Homo sapiens: one gene and its partners. The protein of the gene in region 2 interacts with the protein of the main gene of each other region in a biochemical or structural test. Each region holds a gene or a part of one and is shown on either strand. Other genes may lie near its edges. The genes, in order: IGF2BP3, MKRN2 and CSDE1.

Region 1 (11,591 bases), on a different chromosome or scaffold from region 2:
CCTTTTCCCACCCCTGCCCCTTTTCAACTTTCAGAGCACTAGACAAACTGAATGGATTTCAGTTAGAGAATTTCACCTTGAAAGTAGCCTATATCCCTGATGAAATGGCCGCCCAGCAAAACCCCTTGCAGCAGCCCCGAGGTCGCCGGGGGCTTGGGCAGAGGGGCTCCTCAAGGCAGGGGTCTCCAGGATCCGTATCCAAGCAGAAACCATGTGATTTGCCTCTGCGCCTGCTGGTTCCCACCCAATTTGTTGGAGCCATCATAGGAAAAGAAGGTGCCACCATTCGGAACATCACCAAACAGACCCAGTCTAAGTGAGTATGCTGAGTGTGTGGTGGGTGTTCATGAGAATTCCCCTTGGAATCTTAGTAACAGTGTGTCGTTCTGGTACTTGGTGCCCTTCTGAACACAGCCATGAGGACTCCTTGTACAGTACTTGGGAATGTGTAAAAATCTTGCAGTATCTTGGTGTTCATTTCATATAAATCTGGAGCTAATCCTCATTCTCAAAGGGAACGTCAGATTTTCACACATGAATGGAAAACAAATGATACCTAATCCTCTTCTGGTTGGGGAAGCTCTGGAAGACAGAAAGGCAGCTTCCAGGTTGTCCTCTGTCCCACCCCTTACCCCCCACCTGCCCTCATTGTTTTTGGAAGTAATTTTCTGGGTCCAATCCATTTTATTTGTGGCCTCAATACAGAGGTGGTTTTTCAGTCTTGCCTTACTCGAATAAAGAATCGCTCATCTTATTTGTCCGAATTTTTCCTCTGATTAAGCCATGTAATTAGAATGGCTTTTTCTTCTGGATATTTTTTGATGGTTTTAATTGGTGGGATTTAAGGGATTGGAATATTCCCATTCAAATGTTGGAGCTAATTATCAGGAGCAGAAAGCGGGAACTATTTGTTTTATTCACTACTGTAGCCCCAGGGCCAAGGCCAGGGCCCTGCTACATAGAAGGATCTTTTATTTGTCAAATGACTAAAATGACTGTATGTGAATTATGTTTGAAGCCTTTCATGTGTATCTAAGATACTTCTCAGTTCTCATGCATTATATGTTGTTTTGCTTTAGAAACCATACTGTTGTACAGTATGTGGATATTTTTTGACCCAAAGAAGCTTGGTGACAAACTCTTCCCCCCATACCTAGCTCCGTAACGTGCTACGAGGCACATCCTGTTACTACTGTATTTCCTGAAGAACCTGTGAGTGTGCTGGGAAGAAGAGGTTGTATCCAAAAATACCATTGTGCAAGCCTTGAGCCAGCTACAGAAGTGGCAAGATTATTTTTCCTTTTAAATTTAGAAAGGAGAATTCTTTTTTTTCAGTGTGATCCAACGAAATAAGCTTAATCTTTCTCTAAAAGTTAGAACTGCACTGCTGTGTATACTTTATGTGTTTGTTCCAGCAGGCCTAAGAGGACATGCATGTTCATCATAGGCACCATGCCTGCATTGGACTAGCTGACCCATTTCTCATGTAGAACCAAAAAGAACTGTACTGAGTGGTGGTCCATACCCACCTGCTCCCTGCAGTGGCATCTGATCCTGCCTTCCCCTGCTTTGAAGCAGGAGATGTTGGGTGCTGGTTACCTGAATGCAAAATTAATCGCCCTGACCTCATCATGTAGGAGTGGGAAAGACAACTGGACCATAACCTAGTCAGTCGGCCTGGCTTTAATCTTAAAATTTAAGGGCTTCTTGCTTCCCTTGATCCACCGTTACCTGCAGAAATTCATTATATGGCTTCCCTTCCTTCTCATGTAGCAGATTAGAATTGTTCCTTTTCGAGCTACTCATTTCCCTGTCAGATGAAAGAGCTGTGACTTAAATTGAACTGTTTGTTTTACTTAAGGCAGGAAGATGGGGATAGGGGAAGGGAAGCAATTTTTGTTATATCCGATGATTCATTTGCAGAGCTCTGCCAGTGGATTTAATTAACTCTTGACATTGAAATTAGTCATTATCAGAACCTCGTTTCTGGAATGGTCTCAGAGGGCCATTCTAATCTCCAAAGCCACATTCCTTTCTCTCAGGGGATCGGAGCTTAGTAATCCTTAGCACAGTGAAAGGGTGAAAATAAACTGCAAAGAGGGATGCTAATGTGTTGCTGGAAGACAGGCATCCCTGAAAGTGACTGGGGATTGAAACAGCAGCCGGGAAGATGACTCCTAAGATTGGGACTGTTATCTAAGACACTATTTTTTTATTAGTTATTTTTAGGTAGCCCTTAATTTGTTTCATGCCCTTATTTTTAGTTTTATCTTTTACTCTTGAGGTAAATCTTCAGATTTCAACCAAACATTTAGGAAAATGAAAGCCAAATCTTGATTTTATTGGCATGATCAAGTGGTCACTCTCATGGCCATGAGTTATTTAGCCCTTTAAGTGTTTGAATGGCCAAAGGAACTCAACAAATACTTAATTTTCCCAAAAACACATATTTTTGAGTAGCTAATTTTCTTTCTTGTACTTATTAAAAAATGGCAGGCTTATTTTATATTTAATTCAAAACATATAAATATGTAAATTAAAAAGTTACCATTCGTCTCACCTGGGTAGCTGTTGGTAAGTTGGGGATGTATCTCTATAGGATTTGTTGCCTGTATCTACTAACATGTGTGACTTTAAAAAAGAAATCATGTCATGATGTGAATTGCATTATTTCACTTAAGGACTTTTTACTGTGTTGGTACTTGTAATTTTACCACATTTTCAAAAACATCTGTATGATATGAATATACTGTTATTTAACCATCTCTTCCCGCAATTAGATAATTCTAATTTTCTATCTGTTAGAAACGGAACTTTCCCATGCCAGTGGTTCTCAACTACAAATGATCATCTCTCTGCCCCAACCCCCGTAGACATTTGGCAATGTCTGGAGACATTTTTAGCTGTTAGAGTTGAGAGAGAGGCATGCTACTAGCATCTAGTAGGTACAGGCCAGGGAAGTTAGTAAATTTCCTACAATGCACAAGACACCCCATCCACAACAAAGAATCTGGCCCAAAAAGTCAGTAGTGCCAAGGGTAAGAAACATCACTCTTGACCCATGTATGAGACTATATCTGTAGATGTTACCAGGAGTAGATGTTACAAGAAATACAGTTCTTGAGTCACAAGGTGCTCAGCATTTTGCTGACCAGTTTGCTCCTACCAAAAGTGTTGAGTGTGCCTTGTTACCCATCATCTTGCCCATATTTAATTTTTTCTATCTCAATTTTTGCAAGTCTAGAAGAAAATGACATTCTTTTAGCTGGCAGACATATAATTACTAGTGAAATTAAACATCATTTTGAGTTTATTGGCCACTTGCTTTTCTTGAAGTAGAATTGCCATCTGTCCAGGTTCCATTCCTATCACTGTTCGTTGCAGACTTTCCTCTATCAAGGAGGCAAAATGTGGGAAGAACCTTGCAAAGGGGAAGCAGATTGGTGAAATCTGCTCATCCAATGAATGAAGAATGATATACTGTGCAGAATAAGCAGTTCAACTTGGCTTATGGGATTCCAACTCCTCTCTTGGCATGCCCTCCAGTTCCTATTTGTTTTAGAGCAGATTGAATCCAGGCTCTTTGTCATGAGACATTTGTTCTGTGGCATCTGAAAGGAAGCTGTAAGCACAAACAGCTTGGGTAGAATGAAAAGATGTCCCCGCTTGGTTGGATTGAGGAAAGAGAAAGGGGAATGTTCCTAGAATTAAAATTTGCCTCTTAAGGCATTAATGTTGACAGCTTATTGAAAGTTTATGCTCTTGAGGGAAGTGAGTCATCTGCTTTGCCCTGAAGCCCTATGACTTTGCATTTGGTAATTACAGACTCCACTGTGAATACACGCTTACTGCTCTCGTTTTCCTCTCTGCTTGCGCCCACTATCAGAATCGATGTCCACCGTAAAGAAAATGCGGGGGCTGCTGAGAAGTCGATTACTATCCTCTCTACTCCTGAAGGCACCTCTGCGGCTTGTAAGTCTATTCTGGAGATTATGCATAAGGAAGCTCAAGATATAAAATTGTGAGTAAAGAAGATTGTCCTGTGAAAGAGGTTGATATTTGTGCTCTTGTATTTTTGACATCTCTGACACAATTCTTGGGAATTGCCAACAAACAGAGGGAAATGATATCCTGATGAGCTACAGTGGTTGGCACTGTTGATCTGGTTGTGAAGTGTATGTCTTTTAATATTTAAATATTTTCATTCACATTTGAACATAGGCGAGTGGTGATAACGGGGAAGAGAAATGCAGCTATAGAAGAAGGCAACTTGGGGAACCTAGGACCAGGAGGTATCCTGGATTAACCCAAAACAGGAGCCCCAAATCTTGACTCATCCTTTACTCGGAGCTCATTGGAGCTCTGTTCTTGTCCACTGCCTGGCCCCACCTTGGAGCAGCAGGGAGTGTGGAGGTGGGGAAGTGCCTAAGTCTCTTCTAAGGCAAACTGGAGATTTATCTGGGTAATGCAGGCGGGAACTCTATTTCTTCCACAGGAACTTTGAGTGAAGGTTGGGTTCTGTGCCACGTTTAGCGTACAGAACAGCGCTGCACTGAAAGTAGAATCGAGAGTAAGGCACTGGAGTTAGTGTGGGGACCTCATTACCAACCTTAATTTGTAGAGAACTTTAAATATGTTTTAGTAATATTATATGTGGGTGCCATATCATAAGAATGTAATTATTAAAGTAAAAATTTTAAAGAAGAATTATTTTAGTATAGAGAAAAATAGGCCTGGTGTGGCGACTCATGCCTGTAATCCCAGCACTTTGGGAGGCCGAGGCGGGTGGATCATGAGGTCAAGAGATCAAGACCATCCTGGCCAACATGGTGAAACCCCGTCTCTACTGAAAATACAAGAATTAGATGAGCGTGGTGGCATGTGCCTGTAGTCCCAGCCACTTGGGAGGCTGAGGCAGGAGAATGGCTTGAACCCGGGAGGCGGAGGTTGCAGTGAGCCGAGATCGCGCCACTGCACGCCTGCCTGGCGCCAGAGGGAGACTCTGTCTCAAAAAAAAAAAAAGAAAGAAAAAGGAAAAGCCCACCATCTATTAACCACAATGACATTTTAAACAGTTTTATATATATATGACTGGGAAATTCAGAAAGCTACAAAATGAAAAGTGAAAGCTCCCCTTCCTGTTCTTATGCCCTTCCCCCAAAGTGTAACCACTGTTGTTTCTTCTGTTTCCTTCTATAAATTATGCACATATCTCCAGGTGTATATTTGTACTGGATGGTACTGTTTTTTATTTGTACGTTGTGTTCTGGTAGTAGGGGTTTAGGAATATGGTTTTGAGTAAGAGACTCCATCACTGAAGATATTTCCTGAAGTGAATAAAATAAGAACTATTTTAGAAGTTAACTTCTGTATTTTTTCTCCCCTTCTATTCATGCATTGCTAGAATGCTGGCCAATTGTCAGCAAGTTTTAAGCTGTACCTAACACAGTGCTTCCCAGATGGTAGGTAGGAAGTAAATGTTTAATGAGTGAATATTGTCTTTTTACCCACGAATAGGTTTACTTATTCTAATTTTATGGCCACTTTTCTATTTACAGCACAGAAGAGATCCCCTTGAAGATTTTAGCTCATAATAACTTTGTTGGACGTCTTATTGGTAAAGAAGGAAGAAATCTTAAAAAAATTGAGCAAGACACAGACACTAAAATCACGATATCTCCGTGAGTGCTCCTTTGCTTTTGAATAAGAAAACTTTCCAACACTGTAAGCTGCATGTTGTGTATTGGGCTTAGCTTCCCACTTTACAGCTGCTTCAGCTAGCCTGTGCTGCCGTACTTACACATGGTTTCTCAAATACAGCTTGCTGCCTGTTAGGTTTCTGACCCGTATTGAAAGCATTATCTGCTTCTGGCAGGAGGAACCAAATGCTTTACATTCATGTTTTCTAAAGCAGTCTTAACTATGTTTTATGACATTTATTCCCAAAGTTGGAATATATAACCCAGTTTATTATCCATTGTCGTGTAACGCATTATCCCAACATTTGACAGCTTAACACAATGTGAACATTAATTGCTCAGCTAGTTTTTGTGGGTTAGGAATGCAGGAGCAGCTTAGCTGGGTGGTTCTGGCTTGGGGTCTCACAATGCTGCTGACAAGTTGATGCTGGCTGTTGGCAGAAGGCCTCAGTTCCTCCCACATGGGCTTCTCCACAGAGCTGCTTGAGTGTTCTCAAGACATGGCAGCTGTCAAGATGGAAACTGCAATGTCTTTTATGACATAGCCTCAGAAGTTATACTCTATCATTTTTCTAATGTTGTTTACACAAGTCAGCCCTATTTGGTATGTATGTGTGGGACTACAGATAACTGGGTGACAGGAATCACCTTGGAGGCAGGCTACCACACTTAGAATCTGTGGATGCTCTGAAATTACGTGGAAAGGTTTTTCTGAGGGTGGCCATTCTTAGTTTCACTCAGAGTACTCAAAAAGGTGGGAAAAGATTGATGAACTGAGGAAGAGTGGTAGGGGAAAGACTGCACGGTGTTTGTGTACAAGGAGTTTTCAAAGGAGGTAGTAAGGAAGCAGGAAACTTCTGTTTGGTTGTAAAGAAAGGGGGAAAAAAACCCCACAAAGTGGTAAATTCAATAAGTAATACTACTTTGTCTTAAATTTACCCCCAGAAAGGGGAGAGTTTTAAAAGAAAAAAATCTCAAAAGTTATTCTAGAAGCAGCTATTTTTAAAACTGTAATACAAAATGCTTGGCAGGGCCAGGTTGAGACTGAATTAGAATTATAGACTTCTTTTTAAAGTAGTCTAAGAGAAATAGTCTTCATTATACAAATGTTTACATTTTTAACAAGTTTGAGGAAAATGTTAAGGAATAACTTCCCATTCATCTGGCTCAAGGTTAGCCTGTGACATTATACTAGTAGTGAAAATGAGAACTTCAGGAAGATGAAGGAGATTTGTACCAATAATCCATATCCTCTCAATTTATGTACTTAGTTCTGTTTTCCATGGCACATGTCTCCCATTGCTTTTCCTCTCAAGGCTGTTGACCAGCATAGGCTTAGGTGTTTTCAGGTATGATATTCAGTGGCTTTTGAAGGTTCAGCAGGACCTAGGTCCCGCAGGGAGTTTCTGAATATTTCTGCCACTATCTAACGTTTTTGTTATCTAAATGGCATCGGTGAACCATTTTAAATTTTAGTCAAGATGGATTGATATTCCTCCAGCCTACTTCAATCTAAATTCTAAAGAAACTGGTAAAAACTAAGTTTAGACACAGGAATTCTGGCTTGTGTTTTTGGAATATTTCCATGCTTTCTCCTTGCTTGGTGACCCAGAAAATGCAATTGCACGAGAATGCCAATTATGCCTAGAATTGGTTAATACAGACTAGGAACATACTTATGAAAGGTTATGTACTTAGGGTATTTGGTTTCCTCAAAAACTATACATCTTTCCAGTCATTTTTTAATTCACTGTTCAATTGTGAAAATGGTTCAACTTTAAGCGGTTGAGAAGTAAGCTTTATTTAAAATATGGACTTGATTGAACTATATGTATCCAGTAATCGTTAGTTGAGAAAATGGGAGGGCAAATATTTTCTTCTCTCTTGCAGCTTTACAGTTTCGGATTTACGTCTTTTGGGGCTTACTCATTTCCCATCATGTTTTACCACCCACTTTTACATATTACCAGGCTCCACAGTTTGTTTTTAATTGCCGTCTGTGGCTGAATTATTAGCTGTCTTCCTCCAATTTTCATTCTTTTTCTTTCCCTTCTTTTTCATTCTGCAGATTGCAGGAATTGACGCTGTATAATCCAGAACGCACTATTACAGTTAAAGGCAATGTTGAGACATGTGCCAAAGCTGAGGAGGAGATCATGAAGAAAATCAGGGAGTCTTATGAAAATGATATTGCTTCTATGAATGTTAGTTTTGTTATGAAGGGCATGTCTTTATTTTAACAAATAGTTAAAACAATGTTTTTAACTGCATTAATATTGAATTCTTTTGTGGCATTATCACTAGAAGTAGTTCTAGTTGATTTTTAGCACCTCAGCAAGTACCCTGGGATAGTAGGGAAGATACTGGCTTTGACATTAAGCTTTGCTGTCTCTGTGACTTTAGCAAATTATTCAGTCTTTGAGCCTTAGCTTCCTTCTGTCTGAAGTAAGGCTAGTGTCTACCTACAAAGGTTAATATAGTACCTCTCTTACAATGTTAATTTGAGAGAGTTTAATATAGAAGAAATGTTACATGAACTGGATTTGAATCACAGCTGAACCATTTATGAGCTGCAGCTCTCTTCTCTTATATGATTTACTCAGTCTCTCTGAGGCTCAGTTTACTCATCTGTAAAATGGGACTACTGCCTACCTTGCATTCTTATTAGGATTACAATAGATATAATGCATATAAAAGTTAATGTTAAGATTACAGGTTTAAAACTTGGTTAGCCATATAAACCTTGGAGATACAAGAATTTCAATTGATAAAACAATCTGTGTAGTGCATCTGAGGCTATTAAAGCAAATTGCTGACATTCCTTAATCAGTGAAATGGTGCTGAAAATGGAATACTTCAAAAGCCTGTCTTAAATTTTAAAGTAAATGACTTTAAAAAATAATTTTTTTTCAATTGGGCCAGTCATCTGAAACACAAAACCTGAGACGAGGGAAATGTGCAAATACTGCGTTTGTGAGAAGAGCCTAGAATGCTAGCCATTTTACACCCCACGTGACTTCTTGCCAACCTGCTTCAATTCTCACTGCTTGGCTCCAAATGTTCTGGAATCAACTGGGATTAAATCTAACCCCCTTAGGCCTTTTAAAAAGATTTTCAAGTACACTCAAATCTCCCTTCCACCGTCTACATTACGTCCTCAACCCTTATAAAATTAAACAAATTAAAATACCCTTTCTGGCTCCTATTTCCATTCCAGTGATATGTTTACTTGCAGTAGTTACATGGGGATGGGTCCTGATTTCCAGAGGGCTCAACTTTGAGGCCTCTAGACCCATGGTTGCTAAGTTTTACCCAGCAAGTAAAGATCTCTTAATAGCTGGTTTGCTTTTCAATGAACCAATCTTACTTGATTACCTCTTCAACTCTGATACATTGCTTTTTGTCTATATTTAGTTTGCCCACAGCATGCAGAATACGGTTTTGTCTAAGTCCTGTGGGCTAGTCATAAGGGAAAGGAAAGCTTCCCTTGAGATATCTTAATGCAGCTGTGGACCAAGGAGGGGGCAAACCAGCACACAGATTTTAAAATACCAAGGGATATAAACAGATGTAAACGATGTACTCAAGTAGAGTCCCATGGAACATCTGCTTTGAGTTATACAATCATTTCTTTATTAGACAAGAGATCAGTTTGAATACTGTCACTTAAAAATGCTCACTTTCCCTTGATTCTTTTAATTGTCAAATTAAGGGGCCTTTTTACTGTTGCAGCTTCAAGCACATTTAATTCCTGGATTAAATCTGAACGCCTTGGGTCTGTTCCCACCCACTTCAGGGATGCCACCTCCCACCTCAGGGCCCCCTTCAGCCATGACTCCTCCCTACCCGCAGTTTGAGGTAAGATAACTGGCCTTGGCTTTCTTTGTGATTGGGCAAAATCTTAATGTAAACCTAGTCCCCGCGTGATCATCTGTTTAGATGCCAACATATGCTCTCCAGTTCTTGCTAATGGAGCCTTCTTATTTGGCCCTTTGTGGAGTAGACATGGGATTATTTTGCAGTTTTTGGATAGCGGGGTTGTCAACATGTGTTTTCAAATATCACAACAAAAGTTTGGGACTTTGAGGTGGCAGGGGAAGAAACTTAGTAATTGTTTTTCTTATTTAAAAAAATTTTTTTTCTTTTTTCTTTTTTCTTTTTTTTTTATTCTAAGTTCTCGGATACATGTGCAGAATGTGCAGGTTTGTTACATAGGTATACATGTGCCATGGTGGTTATTTAAAAGTTTTTGGAGACACAGTCCCACTCTTTCGCCCAGGCTGGAATGCAGTGGCACAATCTTGACTCACTGCAACCTTCACCTCCCGGGTTCAAATGATTCTCATGCCTCAGCCTCCTGAGTAACTGGGATTACAGGTGTGTGCCACACCACACCCGGCTACTTTTTTTGTATTTTTAGTAGAGACAGGGTTTCGCCATGTTGTTCAGGCTGATCTCAAACTCCTGGCCTCCAGTGGTCTGCCTGCCTCGGCCTCTCAAAGTGCTGGGGTTATAGGCGTGAGCTATTACCTGGCCAGTAATTATTAAATACTAAAGGAAAAGATTTTTTAAAGGCTTCTTTCATCTTTGTCACCTGAAGTCAATGGCTTTGAAAGGTCAGGAGTGACTCTGTGTGTTTTCCATGTTGAGTGTACTTTTTTAAACCAAAGAGATAAGATAGTTTTGTGCACAATTATATTGTGTGTGTGCGTGCATACATTAAGCAGATGTTTATTTTGTAAAGAGGTAGGTTATATAAGAAATAAATCTTAGGCCAAGTGCCATGGCTCACACCTGTAATCCCAGCACTTTGGGAGGCCGAGGCGGGAGGATCACCCGAGGTCAGGAGTTCAAGACCAGCCTGGCCAACATGGTGAAACCCCATCTCTACTAAAAATACAAAAAATTAGCCGGAGTGGTGGCAGGTGCCTGTAATCCCAGCTACTTGGGAGGCTGAGGCAGGAGAATCGCTTGAACCCAGGAGGCAGAGGTGGTAGTGAGCTGAGATTGCGCCATTGCACTCCAGCCTGGGCGACAGAGCGAAACTCTGTCTGGGAAAAAAAAAAAAAAAAGAAAAAGAAAAAGAAAGAAATATTTTATACTTGCTTTTTAAGAATAGCAGTTTCCTTGAGGTCAGAAATAGGAGACTAGTGATGGTATGAAAATAATCGCAGCACAGCAGACACCTGATGGAATAAATTATTTTGAAAGTAGTTAATAATTCAGTTGCATTATCGATAATCGGAGGTATTCATGTGACATTCTAGGATCTTCCTTCATGAATTTGTTTTGACATCTCTCCCTTTTTGTTTGGCTCACTTACTTAATATTAATATTTTGAGTGATACCTCTTACACCAATTTGGGGAAATGTCCAGGTGGAATAGGTTGGTGATTCCACTGTATTACTACCTAGAATAAATATGTAGAGTAAAATGACATTGAAATTGTACAGAAAATACAGATGGCTCAGATTGTCCCCCTTTTATCCTTTTAAAAATGAAAATTTCCTTTTCCTGTCCTTGAACCCACCAAACTGATTGGGGTTCTAAGCAGTTGCCCTCCTGCCGTGTGTGTTTCTGCCTTTACTGTCAGCAGCATCTTGTCTCCCCTGCAATTCACCTGCCGTTTCTAGTATGTTTTGGCCTGGAAATCATGTAACAGAATGATAGCCATCAAAATTTCAGCTACAAGTGAAGTGTGCATAGATTCATTACGTGCCCCCTGAAGTGGCTGGCATGTTTTTACTTTGATGCTAAAGGGGACTGGTAGAAAGAACCCTGGAGTCAGAGCCCAGGTCTGGCCCACTGCCTCTGACACAATTTTGTGTCACTGAAGGTCAGACTCCTTGGCTCTGGATTTGTTTTCTCACCTGTATAATAAAAAAAACCTG
Region 2 (7,718 bases):
GCAAGAGGTTTAGCAGAGAGTGTGCCCAGGCTTCGTAACATGACTTCTCCCTTAGTAATCTAATTCTTATTTCAGGTCTTGTCCAGAATGCCGTGTGATATCAGAGTTTGTAATTCCAAGTGTGTATTGGGTGGAAGATCAGAATAAAAAGAACGAGTTGATTGAAGCTTTCAAACAGGGGATGGGGTAAGTGCTTTTGAGTTTCGACGTGCCCCTGCTGCCTGCCTGGCTCTGCTGTCAGCCCGTGTCCTCGTTCTCCTTCCCAGGAGTGTGGTCTTAGGGGCCTCTTCCTCTCTTCCTTCTCTCAGGCACCATGCTGGGCTCTGGGATGCAGCAATGAGCAAGGACATGGTGATGTGGACCTGTTTAGTTTTGGTGTTTTTTTTTTTTTTTTTTTTTTTTCGGTGAGATAGGGTCTCACTCTGTTGCCCAGGCTGGAGTGCAGTGGTGCAATCTCAGCTCACTGCAGCCTCAGCCTCCTGGGCTCAAGCAGGAGCCTCTTGAGTAGCTGGGGCCACCAGTAGTGTGCGCCACCATGCCCAGCTAATTGGCTAATTTTTTTTGGTAGAGACAAGGTTTCGCCATGTAGCCCAGGCTGGTCTTGAACTCCTAGGCTCAAGTGATCCTCCTGCCTCGGCCTCCCAAAGTGCTGGGATTACAGGCATGAGCCACCGTGCCCGGCCTCAAATGTTCCTCTTTATCCTGGTTGTCAGCATGTTGATATTTTGCCTAGGAGTGGAGTGGTTTTTCTCTACGCTTATGTCACTCCCCAAGATGAGCGAAATTTTAGCTATTGTTTCATTAACTTTTTTTCTGTCTTGTTTTTTTCTTTTCCTGCTGGGACTCTACTTCCGTTTATGATAGTTTTTTTATATTGTTCATAGATCTCTGGGGATATTCATTCTTTTTCAATCTTTTTTTCTTTTCATCTCCTTGAACATAGTTGTAGCAGCTACTTTGAAATCCTTGTTATCTTGAAGTTGACCTCTGTTGTCTTTTAAGAATGGATCACATTTTCCTGATTCTTCGTATGTCTAGTAATTTTAGATTTTATCCTTGACATTGTAAATATTACATTGTAGAGAGACTTAGGATTCTGTTATGGTTTATCTGTAAAGTGATGATTTTTTTTTTTTTGAGACGGAGTTTCACTCTTGTTGCCCAGGCTGGAGTGCAGTGGCACAATCTCGGCTCACTGCAACCTCTGCCTCTCGGGTTCAAGCGATTCTCCTGCCTCAGCCTCCCGAGTAGCAGGGATTACAGGCATGCACCACTGCACCTGGCCAATTTTTTGTATTTTTAGTAGAAACGGGGTTTCACCATGTTAGCCTGGCTGGTCTCAAACTCCTGACCTCAGGTGATCCGCCCACCTCGGCCTCCCAAAGTGCTGGGATTACAGGCATGAGCCACTGCGCCTGGCCAAGTGTTGCTGTTTTTAACAGGCAGGTAAATTGTTTGAACTCAAACCCAGGTAGCAGTTCAGATCTCAGTTCTGGTTTTGCATTCGTAGCTGACTTTGTCGCATTCCTGTGTGGTTTGGGAGTTAGTCAGATTTGGGCAGAGTTTATACACAGCCTTTGAGCACTTTTTCACAGGCCCCTTACTTTGTGGGATTGCTTCCTCACTTTCCAATGGCTGTGATTTCCTTGAACTCTTGTCTTTTAGTTCTTCAGGCCAGAAAGATTGGATTTCCCCTTGGAGTTTTAGCCACCCCATGTGGTTATGATTTTGGCCTGCTCCAGGATAAGAGCTACTTCTTTTTTTTTTTTTTTTTTTTTTTTTGGAGATGGAGTCTTGCTTTGTAGCCCAGGCTGGAGTGCAGTGGCACAGTCTCAGCTCACTGCCACCTCCGCCTTCCAGGTTCAAGCACTTCTGCCTCAGCCTCCCAAGAAGGTGGGACTACAGGCGCATGCCGCCACGCCTGGCTAATTTTTGTATTTTAGTAGAGACAGGGTTTCACTGTGTTTCCCAGGCTGGTCTTGAACTCCTGAGCTCAGGCAATCCACCTGCCTCGGCCTCCCAAAATGCTGGGATTACAGATGTGAGCCACAAAAGCTACCTTTTTTAAAAAAGGTAACTTAGCCTTTGCCATTGCTATTCTTCTTTGTGTTTACTCCTCCAAAGAATCTAACTGCGTTTGTTCATTCTCTGGTGCCTTCAGGTCTTCTTGAAATATTTGTGTTAAGACTTATCTGCAGGAGGGTTGGGTATGGCAGGCGTTTACTTGTCATACTAAAAGTGAAACTATGCATTACCTTTTTTAATGGTTCCTTTATGTTGCATATTAGTTTACTAAAGCTTGATTTTTTTTTTTTTTTTTTTTTTACCATTTTTTCCTCATACAATCTTCCTGTGTGTCCACAAGAGGGCAAGGCGTGGCAAGCAGAGGGGTCCCAGCTTGTAGAAAAGGGCCCCAGCCTGTAGAAAAGGGTCCCAGCCTGTAGAAAGGGGCTCTGCTGAAAAGCAGTCTGGAGATTGTTATTGCTATTTGGATCTTTCCTTGCTTTGCTTTCCTTTAATGACTGTGTTTTTTGCAATCCACAAACATTTACTGAGTACTCACTATGGGTCAGGTACCTTCTAGCTAAGCACCACTGGGGGATGTAGAGATTAGTAAGACAATTTCTTTTTTCTTTCGAGTCTCGCTCTGTCACCCAGGCTGGCAGTGGCATGATTTCAGCTCACTGCAACCTCCGCCTCCAGGGTTCAAGTGATTCTTCTGCCTCAGCCTCCCGAGTAGCTGGGATTACAGGTGTGCGCCACGACACCCAGCTAATTTTTGTATTTTTTTAGTAGGGATGGGGTTTCGCCATGTTGGCCAGGCTGGTCTTGAACTCCTGGCCTCAGATGATCTACCCACCTCAGCTTCCCAAAGTGCTAGGATTATAGGTGTGAGCCACTGTGCCCCGCCAAGTAAGACAACTTCATGGGAAACTGCAAAAGGGCAATTATGATACAGGTTTGCTGGTGACCAGTTCTTCATGAGGGACCATCTATCACAACAGAGAAAGCACTTGGATCCACCGGGGGCTGCCAGGGGAAGCAGCATGGGAGCCTGAACCATGAAGCAGGAAGCACCTGTCTGTAGGGGGAAGTGATGGAAGGACATGGGCACAGAAGGGTGTAGGTTTTGTGTCTGGGGGACACTGGGAGTGGCTCCTGGCATTGAAACAGGTGTGTAGAAGGATGTGGTGGGACCTACAGACTGGAATCTAAGGGACACTTGAATCCCAGTGTGACCATGGTCTTTAAGAACAGGTTGGGGCCAGGCGCAGTGGCTTATGCCTGTAATCCCAGCACTTTGGGAGGCTGAGGAGGGCAGATTGCTTAAGTCCAGGGGAGACATAGGGAGACCTCATCTCTTTAAAGAAAAAAAAAAGGTTGGGAAGCTCCTCCGTGCTGCTCTGAAGGTGGAAACTGGTGGGAGTGGGAGGGAGGCCAGTGAGGAAGTGGCCCTGGCAGGCAGGCCCCAGAGGCTTCCACAAGTGTGGGAACCCAAAGGAAGGGGAGATTGGGAAGTGATTTGTAAACAGAATGAACACAGTTGGGTGTGAGAGCCGAGGACACAGAGTGAGTCAGAGTGAACTGGAGGCTTTTGGCCTTGGTGACCAGATAAGCCTGGGGGAGGAAAAAGAGTAATATTCTTGTGAGAGTGGGGGACCAGTATATAATGTGTTTGACCTGATCGAGTTCATAGCCAGTGTGCTAGGATGCTCTGGAGTTGTCCAGCAGGCTCTGGTGAGAGCAAACTGCTCACGGTCATTTGAAGTCCGCTCAGAACTCCAGGCAAGCAGGGGCCTGGAGGATGTGTCGTCCACACACCTGCTCTCCAGCCACCTGTGCTCAAATCAGATCAGCTGGCCAGGGAGCTTGTTCTCTCTCCCCCCACCCTACCCCCCCGCCACCACCCCCAGTGAGACGAAGTCTCACTCTGTCTCCCAGGCTGGAGTGCAGTGGCACAATCTTGGCTCACTGCAGCCTCCACCTCCTGGGTTCAAGCAATTCTCCTGCCTCAGCCTCAGCCTCCCGAGTAGCTGGGATTACAGGTGCCAGCCACCACACCCAGCTCATTTGTGTATTTTTAGTAGAGATGGGGTTTCGCTGTGTTGGCCAGGCTGGTCTCAAACTCCTGACCTCAAGTGATCCACCCACCTTGGCCTCCCAAAATGCTGGAATTACAGGTGTGAGCCACCACACCCGGCCAGAGGGCTTTTCTTTATGCTGCTATGAAGCCGTCCTCAGAGAACTTCACCACCGGCCTGCGGCCATCCCATCTGACAAGACGGAAAACCACTGGATTCAGGAGCCTCCTTTCCCTGTTCTTGTCTCCCGCTGTCACACACCCCAGCTGCCCCTGACAGCAGCGTGCCCTTTCTGTTGTTTGGCTTTATTTCTGTGACTTTCCCCTTCCTCTGTACTCCGAGATGGCCCTCTGGATTCTTGGGTATCTTTTTTTTTTTAACTTCAGTTTGGGATCCTTTATGATTGGATAAACCAGAGTTCATTTGAGCAAAATGGGAATTCATTTGATTGAGTTTCCTTGGGCAGGGTTCTTAACATAGAGGTCTGTGGGGAGAATGGTAGAATTAAGAGAGAGGGAAAACATTTTGAACTGTTTGGTCACTGTATGCTGTAGACCCATGTTTTATGCATTGAAAAACACTGTTCAGAGAAGGGGTCCAAAGCACATAAGGCGTGAAGAAGCCCTCCCTGGTGCCGAGGTTGGAGACAGGAAAACTGGAAGGAGACCTATGGCTTTAGGCAGTTGCTAAAACCCTCTGCTTTCCCTGTAGCCACCTTGACAGCACTGCGGCCAGGAGGAAGGGGAGAGTTGGCTTGGTGGGGTACCTAGGGAACTTTGAGCAGAGACAAGTGGCCCAGCTTCAGAGCTTAGTGCCCAGAGGAGTGACCAGGCCTGGCTTAGCTCTGTGGTGACCCAGGAGGTGCTCTGGAGCTGCCGGAGGGCCTGTGGAGCACTGCAGTCTCCACACAGCAAGTCCCCAGGCAGGTTAATATCCTTTGCAAGGCTGCAGGTAAGTGGGGATACTTCCTATCCTGCTTGGAAATCAGAATCCCAGCTGTGTGTGACCTGAGACAAATCACTCAACCTCTCCCAGCCTCAGCTGCCCCACCTAGAATGTGAGGCTGACCTACCTCTGGCGTAAGGGTGGTAAGGATGGAGGCAGGCAGTGGCCCAGTTTGGACCCCTCATTTTCCCACCAGCCTCTTGACTTTTTCTTTCTGCTTTTCAGGAAAAAAGCCTGTAAATACTTTGAGCAAGGCAAGGGGACCTGCCCATTTGGAAGCAAATGTCTTTATCGCCATGCTTACCCCGATGGGCGGCTAGCAGAGCCTGAGAAACCTCGGAAACAGCTCAGTTCTCAAGGCACTGTGAGGGTAAGGACTTTAGCCATCTCTAGTTGGGGACACTTAGCAGCTGTGGGCATTTCCAGGTACCGTTCCTGGCAGAGAAATGGGGTAGGCAAAAGAACGATCAAGGAACGCAGCCTTCCTGTTGCTCTTAGCAGTAACCAGGCATGTCCACTGGCTGTTTTTGCAGTTCTTTAATTCAGTGCGGCTCTGGGATTTCATCGAGAACCGAGAAAGCCGGCATGTCCCCAACAATGAAGATGTCGACATGACAGAGCTCGGGGACCTCTTCATGCACCTTTCTGGAGTGGAATCATCAGAACCCTAAAGAGTAGATGGTTGCCCTGCATCTTGGGCTCCATCGGCCGAAACTTTCCCAAGCCAGGGTGTGCGGAGCTTCCCTGTACTGCAGCCAAGGTGACGTGTGACTTGGATTTGAGTGGAGTTGGGCTTAGCCTTAGTCTCATTCAATCTCCATTATTACAGCCATGGGGAAGAGTGAAAGATATAAAGTAACCTAATTAAATGTATGGAATTGCTATTTTTATAGCTGATATAGTTACACCTCAAGCCCCTCAGGGGTAACAACTAACAAACACCCAAACTGTTTGGATTGATTGCTTTAAAAAACAAACCTGGCTCTTACCTTTGATCTTTTCTTCCCCAGAAATAGTAAACTTGCAGCTGCCCCTAATGCAGCATATTTTTCTTACCAAAGGAGTCTTCAGCCCTATAAAAGGATTCCTCTATAGTGTATTTCTCTAGTGTATTTAGTGTGTCGTCAAAATTTTGATTTATACAGAGCTTTCAAGAACACACAATGCAAAGTGAGCGCAGCATAGCTGTTAACAAACATACAACTTTTTTCTAGGGCTTTAAGGGTGGTCATTTTTTTCAAGTTCTCTCAAGTGTCCCAAATCAGGGTAGCAATCTTGTTGCCACATGTGCAGCAAACAAAGTGGAAGTATAGATCTTCTTCTCCCTTAGGGAGGCTCTTGAAGGAGCAGGAGGTACAGTACTGGGTAGCAGTCTGGCCCTCCTGTCGTCTGGTTGGTGTTGGGGCCTCCAGCCAGGGCCCTCTAGGGGAACCAAGCCTCTGCTCTCACCTGTGGGTTCTTGCCCATCAGGGTAATTGTATTGAGAACTCAAATATACGTGCACTTACATGTGTGGTTCGTACTCAAGTGATCTATTATCTAGCTGCAAAGCCTGGCTTTGATTTGAAATTTTGTAAAAATTTCATGGCACCCAAGGTTTCTGATTCTGACCCAGCAGTGGTCCTGAAGAGAGCTGATGGCAAGTCTTGTAGTCATTTTGATTTTAATTGAAGGGTGAGCATAACCTTGTGAACCAGCACTAGCTTGTTCCAAGCTGGAATTTATCTAATCTATTTTTGTGTTTAAAAAAGCTGTACCTACCAAATAAATAAATAGTTTATAAAATGTATTACTTAAGGTATTAGCTGAGTTTAGAGTACTTTCTGCTTAATTAATTTTTATACTTAACTCTTCAGTAGAGGTTTACAAAGAGTACAAAGGTTAAATTACAAATTCATTCCCAGCCTAGGCTCTGGGCACATTTCCTGTTCTTGAATTCTGCTCCTGAAGAGGGTGAACAAATGGGGCATTCAAGTTGTGAGCTCAGAATTACTTTAAAAGGAGGTAACAGCCAGCCATTACACCTAAATTTAATTTATTTTATTAAAATAACATAATTGAGGGACCATCAGATAACTGTATTTTGTCAGGTGCAATAAAAACAAAATTAAAACCCAAATCATCAAGAAAACCTGTATTCCTGGCTTCCTTGTATACACATGATGTGACTAGAGAAACAAGGCTGTTTGTTTGTTTGTTTGTTAGAGAAACAAGGCTGGCCCTGCGGCCCCGCCCCATAGGGGCAGCTCCTGGAAGACAAAATTCAGCATGATGGAAGACTGCTCCCTGAGAGGGCTGAGATGCGGATTGGCCGAGTGCCTTGCCTGGAAAACCATCCCAATGCACTGGACACCTTAGAAGCTGTGAAAGGAGGACGTGTCCCCTAAGAAAAGTTCCATAGTACCAAAGCAGGCTCCTTCGGGCGGCCAGAGTCTCGGCAGTCCTGGGCTGTTTGGTGCCTTATGTGCAAAATGTCTGGCGCTGCACCACTCTCTGAAGAAAGTCCCGCCTGTGACATGCATTCCTCCAGAAGCTGATTTCCAAAATCCCATGTGTCTCCACATCAGGGCTGGACTGCCTGCTACCTTACTTCCTCTAAATACTCATGTAGCCAACAGCTGGGGCTGGGCCCCTGCTTTTTGTACTACCATCAACATCCACTTGCGCATCTACAGAAGGCTGGGCCTTGAG
Region 3 (11,591 bases), on a different chromosome or scaffold from region 2:
GAACAGCTGCTGGACTTTAAATACTTCTAAACTACCAAAATGCCTGCTTTTCCTAAATAGAATTGTTTAAATAAAATTGTTTAAGGAATTAATAAGTATTCATAAATAAAACATGCCTTGATCTCTTACTTTTTCCAGGTGACCATATGTCATTTTTTAAGAAGCCTTTCCTGGTCTCTAAAATGTAAATCACAATACTTACATACTGTCCTGATTCATCTTTATTACATGTATTGTTGTCTTTCTAAACATCATATACAGTATTTTACTCCTCTAGTCTGCCCCATATTTTCCACCAAAAAATAAGGTCAATGAATACAGGGATGTATCTGATTTCTTCACTGCTGTATCCCCAGTGTCTAAAACATAACACACACTTAAGAGTTCAGATGAGAGCCAAAAATAAGTTGCAGGTCTTTTAAAGTCAGAGATCCAAGATCCTAAATTACAATTAATTTTTTTAACTTCCCATTATTTTTCACATTTAGATTCATTCTTCTTCAAAACAATCTTCTAGGGAAATGCCTCTCTTCCCTACTCCATGGTGATGTATACATATCTTGGGGTTATTTTTGTTTTTTTCAGACAGTCTTGCTCTGTCACCCAGGTTGGAGTGCAGTGGTAGGATCATCATGGCTCACTGCAGTCTCAACCTACCAGCACAAGCGGCCCTCCCACCTCAGCCTCCCAAGTAACTGTGACTACAGGCATCCACTACCACAGCTGGCTATCCTGGGTTTATTTTTCAAAAGAAGACAATGAATTGAAAATATAAAGCAAATTTCCTAAAATATCTAGGCCAATCCTTCTCAAACTTCAGTGTATACCAGAATCACCTAAAGGATTTATTAAAAAAGAATGCCCACTCACAGAGTTTCAGTGGGTATGGGATAGGGTCAGAGAACGTATATTTCTAACAAGCAACCAGGTGATGCTGCTGTTCTATGGAATCGCACATGAGAATGACTGATGTAGAATAATTAGGCCTCATCTCCCTCTACTACTCCATCCTTTATCTCCCACTTAAAAGCACAGGCTGAATAAGAAGTCACAATTTATTACCTGAGTGTGTTTTGTTCACTTTTTCTGCACTGACTTTGTTGCCTTTGCCTTTGGACAAGCTATACTCGACCATGTCCCCCAGTTCCAGGCTATCAACATCACCAGAGAACTCACTAAGGAGAAAGGAAATGACATTTAACTAAACATTACCATAAACATCAACAGTAACAGGCAGTCTTTATTTTACAGTAACAGTCATGGCATGGCATGCTTATTTACATTAGACACCATTTTAAGTAATTTCTATGTATTGACTCATTTAATCCTCAAGAATGCCCCATGAAGAGGTAACATTATCCCTAACTTCAGGATAATGAAACTAAGATACCAAGAAGTTATTTGGTAAAAATTACACAGGTATAAAGTGGCAGGGCCTGGATTCAAAAACTGAACTGTCTGGTTCTAAGAACCCTTACTTTCTATTTTTTTTTTTGAGACAGAGTCTCACTCTGTTGGCTAGGCTGGAGTACAGTGGTGCGATCTCAGCTTACTGCAACCTCTGCCTCCCAGGATCAAGTGGTCCTCCCACATCAGCCTCCTGAGTTGGTGAGACTACAGGTATGCACCACCATGTCAGGCTAATTTTGGTAATTTTTGTGGAGATGGAGTTTCACCGTGTTGCTCAGGCTGGCCTCGAACTCCTGGGCTCAAGGGATCCACCTGCCTCAGCCCCCAAAGTGCTGGGATTATAGGCATGAGCCACCACACCCAGTCAGACCCCTTACTCTTACACTACATTATACACCAAATGGCCAACTCTATGGTACCAACACAAAAAATAAGGTGGCACAGGCCTTTCTATTTCTTTTGGCCACAGGCTCTGTATATAGTAAGATCAGTGATTAACTTCAGTTTATATCTTGCCATAATTCTACCAATATGAAATCTGAACCTCAACAAGTATAATCAATCAATACTAAATGTTTTTTATTCCAACACCAAAGAATGGATGGTAAGTTAGCTGTAAAGTTCCTGAAAGTCACGCCTTACCTGTAATGGAAAAAGATTTCCTTATCATGATTGGCTGTTTCAATAAATCCAAAATTATCCTTCAGAGTTGCCACATAACCCAAGAGCCTCTTGGAGTTAGAATTACGACCTAAAAGTCGCACACAAGTTGCAACCTGCTGTCCAGGCCTCTGTTTGTCACTAATACTAAATTCAACCTGTGAAAATTAAGGATGCTCATTAACACCATATCACTTCCACACCAATCTCCTTAACTCAGAAAACAAGACCTATAACTCCCCCAGCGCATGCTTTTCATTCCAAATATCCTTTGTTATTACTTCAATGAAATTGATTTTCACCAAAACATTTATGTCTCATCCCACTTTTCACAAAGGATCAAACTTTTATCTTTCAGTCTGTATTCCTTATAGATTCTGAATTTCTCTAGAGGGCTATCCAAAAACCAAACATATTAAGTATGAGAAAAAATGAACAACAACGTAAAATCTTTGGTGTGCTTTTACTTTGATAATGTTTCAGTAGTAACTGTTTTAACTTTCTTACCAATAACGATTTTATTAAGCATGTTTTATCTAACGTTTAAACAGCTAGATTAACAAGGCTTTGATTAACAAAGAGCTTGACAGACACTTTTAATAAGCTGCTTTCAAATACAAGATATTCATGTATTTCTCTTAAACACAAAATATATTTCAGCAAAACTTGATAAAATTTGAAGAACCCATCCTGCAGGATTTATGATTAAGATGACAACTCTTAACCCTCTCTCGAATGAGCAGAATTATCTTGCCTTATCTCCTATTTGAGGAGAAGTAGATCCTTCCACATCCTTGGCTTGAAAAGCAATAGTCAGTTTCACCCCACAGTCATCATAAGCAATAATGCCATCCTCAGCCTCCTAAAGAGATACAGTCAAAAACAGAATGAAAACAATCTCAAGAACAAAAACCAATAAAAACAACTATAGTTCTTACATATTCTTGTGCCAAAGGATTGGTACAGCTGTAAAAATGTCTTATTCCAGCATTTTCTAAAAGATTATTCATATGAATAAAAGGTAGTCTTGCCTTAAGCCTAGCTCAGTCTGCTGTAATTTTTAATTGGTCTTTCAATCTTAAGAATCTAATTTTTGCTATTGAGGAGAAAAAAGCTTACTGAAAATGTTTAATACACCTGCGCTCCTCATAGCCAATCAGAAATTAAACTGGGCATGTTACTTCCAAGGAAGTGGAAATTCTATAAGGGCAAGAAGCTTTAGTATTTCCTAAAGAAGCTGCTGAAGTATCCTCTTTTAGTAGCACACAGCACCTTGCACAGTATTTAATATATAATGTCAATCAATATACTTAACAATGCAGGATAATTTGGTGTATGATCTAGCACAGTTCAAGTACTTGACATAAAGTAGATGATTAAAAATTATGACATACTAGTATTTCAACAATTTTTTTTAATACCAGACTTCAAGGAGAAACAACATTTCAGTCATCGTACGTGTAAGAATGATTAACTCTTAAAAAATCTAAGGGCTGGTCTGAAGGTAGTGGGTTATCTCGATTGTTCAGTCAGTTACAGATCGAACTTCCTTGTTCTCCTCTTTCCCCCCTTCTCACTACTGCACTTGACTAAAAAAATAAAAGTCTAAGAAAGTTCAGGTGTGTCGTATTGAATCACACCGTTAAGTAATGACAGTGTACAGCAACTACATAAATTATACTGATTTTATGGTTTCAACATTTCTATGAAGATAATGCCCATGTCCCTACTCTAGCCCTGACTTCCTTCCTAAACTCCAGTCCTCATTACAAACTACGATATATTCAAAACCAATTCATTTTCCTCTTCTACCAATCACATTCCTTCCATAACTGCTATATAATAATTTATTGAACACTTACAACATTACCAGGTATTATGTATTATCAAATTAATCTTGTACAAAATCATCTCCATAGTTTCTCTTTTCCCTCATTTTACAAATTGGGGAAATCTGAGGAATTAAGTAAACCTTACCAAGGTTACAAAACCCAGCGCAAAATAATCCAGAGGATTTGAGTTTGGTTAAGAACAATGTCAGTGAACTCAGGTCTGACTCCAATGTCATCAACTTTTCCACAACCAAACTCAAAAGCTTACTGTTCACCTTTTGCTCTTAACTCACCAACTTCAACATCAACAGCTGACAATATACTATACATCAAATATATTAAATAGAGATAGGAGAATCCCTGCCCTGAGGGAGTCCAGTGCAGCAGAGACAGATTCATTAACAGGTAAATGTTATATACTGTAAGAAGCATGATGACAGAGGATTTACTAGGGTACTGTTGGACTAAGAAAGAAAAAAAAACAAAAAATGGCAGGGAAAGTCTCACACAAAGGCTCTCTTCATCAAGCCAGTTTTGCCAGACACATTTGGGAAGCAGAGCATTCCAAGAATTAAAAGTTATTAAAAATAAGCCCAACTGAAGTGTATTTTTATTTTTGTTAACAGTATCATCTGTCACATGCGAAATTCCTATTATGAGCTAGGTACTTCGAGGGCTTTTTAAACTATTACACAATCATTTTTGAAATTTAAAAACTGAAGCTCAGAGGTGAAATAATTTCCCAAGCTACAGTAAGTGATAAGCAAGATACTAGCCTTGCTCTTTCTGGCTAATAGCAATTATTAAATTATAACATGACTTTCCAGTATCTCTCATGTACCTTCACTTGTCTATAGTCACTATCTGTGTGCCTAGTTCAAGGACTACCTTAACTATCCAAGTAATTTCATAGTAATCCTTTTCATCTTTTGTCTTTCTCCATCCCATCTAGGCTTCATATTGCTGCCATTACTCTCCCAAAGCACATACCTGATGTCATTATCCAAAAGAAATCTTTTCCTTGAAGTACAGAACAAGGTCTAAATTTTTTTTTTGGAGACGGAGTCTCACTCAGTCGCCCAGGATGGAGTGCAATGGCGCCATCTCAGCTCACTAAAAGCTCTGCCTCCTGGGTTCACGCCATTCTCCTGCCTCAGCCTCCCGAGTAGCTGGGATTACAGGTGCCCACTACTATGCCCGGCTAATTTTTTTGTATTTTTAGTAGAGATGGGGTTTCACCATGTTAGCCAGGATGGTCTCAATCTCCTGACCTCGTGATCCGCCCGCCTCAGCCTCCCAAAGTGCTGGGTTTACAGGTGTGAGCCACCGCACCTGACAATAAGGTCTAAATTCTTTAGAGCAGCAATCAACACCCTCCCAGTCTAGCTGGATCCTGATTTTTCATCCTTATTTCTCCTAACCTCCCTCACCAACAAAAACCCACACACAAAACCAAAAAAAAAAAAAAAAAAATTCCTGTCGGACTAGTTACTCATTGCTTCCTAAAGAAACCCTGAATTTTTCTCATCTATACTTTTACTCTGTGAAGAATGCTCTTTCCTGTCTCCATCTGTTAGTAAAACCATCACATACCCTACCAGTTAATTTTCACCAGAGCACTATCGCTGACCTTCAATAGCAATATTTTATATTCTATATGAATTACTTGTTTCTATAAAACTCTCAATTTGTTATTAACTTGAAAGGAGAATTCATCTCAGACATCTTTCTATTTCCTATTTAGTGGATTTTTCAATAAATGAAATTTAAATGTGTGAACTGAGGATACACCCAACTTTGAAAGTTTTAAATTGCCTGGAAGACAGTACTATCATTTTATATAACTAGTTCTCTACTTGGAATGAGTTTGCCTCCCAGGGGACATTTGGCAATGTCTGGACACATTTTTGGCTGTCACAATGGGAGGCAGGGAAAAGGGGTCAGAATACTAACTTCCAGTGGGTAGAGGCCAGAAATGCTGCTAAACATCCCATCCCCCACAGTAAAGAATCATTCATCCCAAAATGTCAATAATCCCAAGGTTAAGAAACCTTACTTTGTTTAGTTCACTGTTAATATGACAGAAATTCTGAAAGAGACAAACTTCCGCTGATTATATGTACTCTATTACTATGTGCTGTTAAAGCAGAAGAGAAATAAACAGCTACAAAAATCATTTGGATTATGCAAAACCTACCTTCTCTTTGCCTTTATTTGGGCTAGTGGTTTTAGGATTGGAAAAAGTGGCTTCTTTTTCTACCGTGCCCAGAAAACGGTGATCTGAATGGGAATGAAATGAAACCGTGCCCTTGGGAAGTTTTTTAATCCTAATAGCATGATTTCTTTGAGCAGAGAGCATATCCTAAAAATGATAAAACAAAATTAACTTTCAATTGAAAAAGAAAGCATCAAGAAACACCTCCCAACTTTTCTCAGAAACAACTCACAGGAACCACAGTAAACTCTACTTCATCTGCAATATGGAGCTGGTTCCCATCCAGAATTTCACTGAAGTGGAAGAACATACGAACATCACGATCCACACACTTGATGAAACCAAAACCATCTCTCATGGCAGCAATCACACCCTGAAACCCAAATAATATTTTCACTGGCTGTGAAACTTGTCAAGAAGGCAACATTCAACTTTACAACCACCATCAAGTTAAATTCATCAGGAATTTTCTCTGATGTGACACAAATACTGTATCCACATTTGAACTGTTCTCACTTAAGTACAAACTCATTGCTTTCAACAAAGTAACTTAACCTGAGCAATTTTCTAAGACTCTCCAATTGCTACTTCCTGGCAAATATGCACTAGAAAAAATTACCACATGTGAACGTAAACACGTGAACACAATGTATTTCATAAAAGCCCAAGTCTAATGACAATATAATCTCCAGAAACTTCACTAATTTACAGACCATAATTCCAAAGTAGACAAAGGCACTTCTCCAGTCTCTACCTCAAAAATTGCATGAGTTTAGGCCCAGGAAAGAGTTAAAATTTACATCTGAAGAATAAAATATATGCAATCTTTTCTCTTTTTTTTTTTTCCTTCTTACTAAATTATCAGCTTTGTAAGGCTTACTGTATCAAGAGTACCTGGAACATGGTAGATACTCATGTTTAATGAAACAATGAACACAAATTATCAATCTGCTATTGTATTACATACTACATATCTGCTCACTGCAGAAGTGATTCTGTAAGTTTTAAATATGACCTAAACAATATTTTGACATTTAATCCTTGCCAAGTCCTGACAGTAGCCAAGTTATATTTTCCATACCGTAAAGCAAAACAGATCTTGCCTTTGAAAATGTAAAAAAAAAAAAAAAAATCACACATTCAGACTTACAAACTTTTAAAGTTAAATACACTGTGTCAAATACAACCAGTTCTTCAAAGGCAAAGGATTAAAAAAAACTCAAGAAACTTAAATTTTCATTCAATGTACCCAGTTCCACTGGCAACACTGAGTTATAGTGTAGATGATATGATCCCAAACGTAACTAAATGCAAATTATGTCTGAGAAAATGAGTTCATAAAACATGTTTGGGAAAAAATCTGGTTGGTTTATGCCACTCCCAGACACAAACTCTTAAAAAACAATTTGTGAAGTTCTGCCAAAACAAAACCTTTTTGACTCTGGTTTAATTGCAAGCTTGTCCAAACCATGGCCTAGGACAGCTCTGAATGTGGCCCAACACAACAAATTGTTAAACCTTCTTAAAACATGATGAGATGTTTTTGCAATTATTTTTTTGAGACAGTCTTCCTCTGTCACCCAGGTTGCAGGGCAACGGCATGGTATTGGCTTACTGCAACCTCTGCCTCCTAGGTTCAAGCGATTCTCCTGTCTCAGCCTCCTGAGTAGTTAGGATTACAGGTGCCCACCGTCACACCTGGCTAATTTTTCTATTTTTAGTAGAGACGGGGTTTTACCATGTTGGCCAGGCTGGTCTTGAACTCCTGACCTCAAGTGATCACCCGCCTCAGCCTCCCAAAGTGCTGGGATTACAGGTGTGAGCCACCGTGCCTATGATTTTTTTTTTAAAAAAGCTCATCAGCTATCATTGCTGTTAGTGTATTTTATGTGTGATCTAGTGTCTAGATCATGGGTGTTCAATCTTTTGGCTTCCCTGGACCACACTGGAGGAAGAATTGTGTTTCCTAAAAACAGAAACCACTAATTAAATGTCTTAGGAAATAGTTTGGGAAAATCTACTTTCTACAATGATGAACTTGAATTTTCTTACTCTTCATATTAAGGGCCTGAGAATCACTGACTCTAAAAATATCTTAGTAATCCTGTCCAGATTTCCATTCAAAAAATTTTTTCACATATATTTCCAAGATAACTGCCAGAGATAACCCAGACTGACTCAAATGTGTATGATTCTTAATCACCTTAACAAGGTAAATGCCCATTAGGGTCATTTAACTTAAGAAAAATTTTAATTTAGTAGTATAAACTTGAATATAACATTGGCTTTCGCATATTAGATACATATCCAGTAATATCCAACACTTACCATTTCTCGGGCTTCATTAGTGAACTGAAATGTATTTGACAGAACTTCTATATTGGTTGCTCGCTCTAATTTGTCACGTCGGTCTGTTGAAATATTAAACCTAACATGGTCACCTTCCAGCAGGGTCACCTTGGATTTCGTATCTTTGTCTCCAAAGGGAAGTTCTTTAGGGATCACAAAGTCAACTTTGATGCGTCCTGGCAATGGGTCATTCTGATGAGAAGGAAAAACGATTTTAGCTGGAGATTTCTCATCCTTCCTAGTTCTAAGTCAAACAAGAAGAACACATAGTAAACCCATGTTATTTTTAACTTAGTTCCCTGAAGCGAAAAAAGGTGTTGACAACATAAGTCCAATGTGAAAGCTTCATGGTCTATGGTCACACGAGTCAACCATAAAATTACAACAATGCAATTAAGACCCAGCACTCTGGTACCAAAAGATTTTATTTAAGGAATTTTTCCAGGAATGACACCACTTGTGTCCTCACCTTCCCCACAAACTGGAGGGGTAGGGCAGGGGCAGAGGAGGGAACAAATGTACACCTGAACTGCAGTCTAATCCAATCAGGTGCTTTCCAATTTAATTAGCATTTTCTTCTTTGGCCTTTTTTCATCACCCAGTAAAAAAAAATACATATTTGGCTGGGCGAGGTGGCTCATACTTGTAATCCCAGCACTTTGGGAGGCCAAGGTGGACAGATCGCAAGGTCAAGAGATCGAGACCATCCTTGCCAACAGGGTGAAACCCCGTCTTTACTAAGAATACAAAAATTAGCTGGGTGTGGTGGCATGCCCTTGTAGTCCCAGCTACTTGGGAGGCTGAGGCAGGAGAATCGCTTAAACCCGGGAGGCGGAGGTTGCAGTGAGCCGAGATCGCGCCACTGCACTCCAGCCTGGCGACAGAGCGAGACTCTGTCACAAAAAAAGAAAAAAAAAAAAAAAAACACCATATTTATGAATATATAAATCTGGTTTCTCTTTTAGTTTAAATATACGTAACAAGAGGTCCTTAGTTGTTCCACTACCACATTATATTAACTGAATAAGATAAAATCTCAGTATACCACACCATATTATTCTATTACTACTGAGGCGAAATAGGACTCTCCTGAAAAAGATTATTTACCTGGTTTTTACTGGGTACTTTTGGGATAACTTTGGTTACAGTTCCTTCAAAATGTTCAATGCTGATATCTTCAAAAATGACTGTTCCTTGAGGCAATAGTCTGACATCTGTTGCAACTTCTTTACCCTAAATCAGAAGGGGTTGGAGGTGGTGGGGGGACAGAGGAAGGAAGAATCACATAATTTTAAGTGTTTCTTAAAAACATAAACCAACTCTGATCTTAAAAGGCCAAAGATCAAGTTAACTGACTGTCTTACATTTCTGTCCTTGATTGTGAATTCCACATCATCGCCAGGCTGTAAGGTTTCTAAGTCACCCTTAAATTCACTATAGTGAAAGAATATCTCTTTTACAACATCACCTCTTTCAATAAAGCCAAATGCCTCCTGAAGCAAAATAAAAAACCAAGAACATTATTACCACTCTGTACAAATTTATGATTACAACTTAAAACCAGTAATTTTTGTAAAATTATACTGTAGTCACAATAATATAATTTGGTACAACCTAATATTATCAATTAAACAGCCAATTTTAAAGAAGATAATGTATTAGCAACCAAGGAATTTTAAGAGACTACTTTTGAGGTTAACAGTGAAATATTTTAAAAGGGTAAGATAAAAAAGAAAAAAAAAAACAAAGGCTGGAGTTTGAAGTACAACATTTCAAGTGGCCAAAGAAAACTCAAGTTTCTCAAATTTAACACTTACCTTCATGGCACAAACTACTCCCTGACAGCGGGCTTGTTTCTTTTTCAACAGCATAATGTTGCGAGCACTTACAGCACCAGTACTAGAAAAAAAATAATTGCAGGGAGGAGGAATGAAACAGGGATTAAAAATGTATTGGCCTGCTTAGATATGAGTCTAAAGAAACTAGTTTCCTGGGGCTTTAAGAATTCTATCATCACTAAGAATAAATACAGGGTTTATGACATTTGATTATTTTCATATGGCTTTATATGCAAAGGACTTTAACTCCTTAGCCTTCTACGTTTGGCAAATATATATATAGGTCATCTTTCTCTGGGACTGTTGTTGGAAGATTTGCTTTTTTACAAACTTACACATGGGTGCGTGATGTTCTACTCTGTTTTTCTATTTCAACAAAATAACTGAAATAAAGCCACAAAGCGAATGCTACCAAAGGTGGGGAATACTAAAGTCTTATAAAGGTTATTCATTAAACAAACATTTGTGTAGGTATAATCTGCGGCAAAGTAAGGTACTGGTGATACAGAGATAAATAGGAGATGGTCTCTATTTTCAGTGAGTGCTAAATTTAGTAGCTATCTCATTAATTATTTCTGAGTAAACAGCCATAAAAGTTGAGTAAATGAAGTGACTTTAAGAGAACTTGCTATGCTTTTAAAAGTAATGATATCCACCTCCATTGGAGAATGGAAACAAGTTAGAGACACCACATGTTGCTTTTATGCCTTCATATTTGTGTAGCAGCGATGTAAATTCAATTTTGTTTTTAAGATAACATAGACTGTATAAGACATAATGGTACTGTTAGTCTAAATGTTTTAAGAAAAGACCTATACACCAAGCAATTACTTCCCTTAATTTTTCACAGACAAATAACCCAAAATGTGCTTTTTATTTAAAAAAATGTTACAGACTAACAAAGACACCAGAAAAATTCTACCTGTTTTTGTAACTTACTGCAGTGAAAACGCTTTAGAGTCAGATGGGAATTTAAATGCCTGCTATTTAAAAGCAGTATGAACATCGACAAGTAACTTTGTGAGAACTTATACGTCATTTTACAGATGAAGAAACTTACCAGGTAAGGCTGTTCTGAGATTAACAACTATATAAATTGAGGCCTTCAGACTGTAACTAATAATAACCACACCTACAACACAATCTGATTCCTTCAAGGCTTGCCAAGAAAGAGATAAGGTTCAAGGCAGATAATCCCAGACATGCTCTTAGGACTTTTCCCTCCACATGCTACTGGAAGGTACATTACTAGCACTTTCTCCAACTTTCTATTTTAATTTCCTTCTC

What was found.
Region 1: the proteins of MKRN2 (region 2) and IGF2BP3 form a complex in vitro, tested with the Homo sapiens proteins (one study listed by BioGRID).
Region 3: the proteins of MKRN2 (region 2) and CSDE1 form a complex in vitro, tested with the Homo sapiens proteins (one study listed by BioGRID).

What each region holds. Positions count from the first base shown.
Region 1 is NC_000007.14:23,340,030-23,351,620, reverse strand, and holds part of IGF2BP3 (insulin-like growth factor 2 mRNA-binding protein 3), read left to right. Parts: intron 1-34; coding exon 35-316; intron 317-3,886; coding exon 3,887-4,021; intron 4,022-5,558; coding exon 5,559-5,681; intron 5,682-7,767; coding exon 7,768-7,903; intron 7,904-9,431; coding exon 9,432-9,557; intron 9,558-11,591. UniProt on the Homo sapiens protein: RNA-binding factor that may recruit target transcripts to cytoplasmic protein-RNA complexes (mRNPs). This transcript 'caging' into mRNPs allows mRNA transport and transient storage.
Region 2 is NC_000003.12:12,576,556-12,584,273, forward strand, and holds the end of MKRN2 (E3 ubiquitin-protein ligase makorin-2), read left to right. Parts: intron 1-75; coding exon 76-186; intron 187-5,252; coding exon 5,253-5,397; intron 5,398-5,560; coding exon 5,561-5,698; 3' UTR 5,699-7,158; downstream 7,159-7,718. UniProt on the Homo sapiens protein: E3 ubiquitin ligase catalyzing the covalent attachment of ubiquitin moieties onto substrate proteins.
Region 3 is NC_000001.11:114,724,159-114,735,749, forward strand, and holds part of CSDE1 (cold shock domain-containing protein E1), read right to left. Parts: intron 10,366-11,591; coding exon 10,284-10,365; intron 9,960-10,283; coding exon 9,831-9,959; intron 9,700-9,830; coding exon 9,574-9,699; intron 8,659-9,573; coding exon 8,446-8,658; intron 6,491-8,445; coding exon 6,350-6,490; intron 6,265-6,349; coding exon 6,100-6,264; intron 3,663-6,099; exon of another isoform or gene 3,562-3,662; intron 2,933-3,561; coding exon 2,825-2,932; intron 2,229-2,824; coding exon 2,053-2,228; intron 1,176-2,052; coding exon 1,063-1,175; intron 1-1,062. UniProt on the Homo sapiens protein: RNA-binding protein involved in translationally coupled mRNA turnover.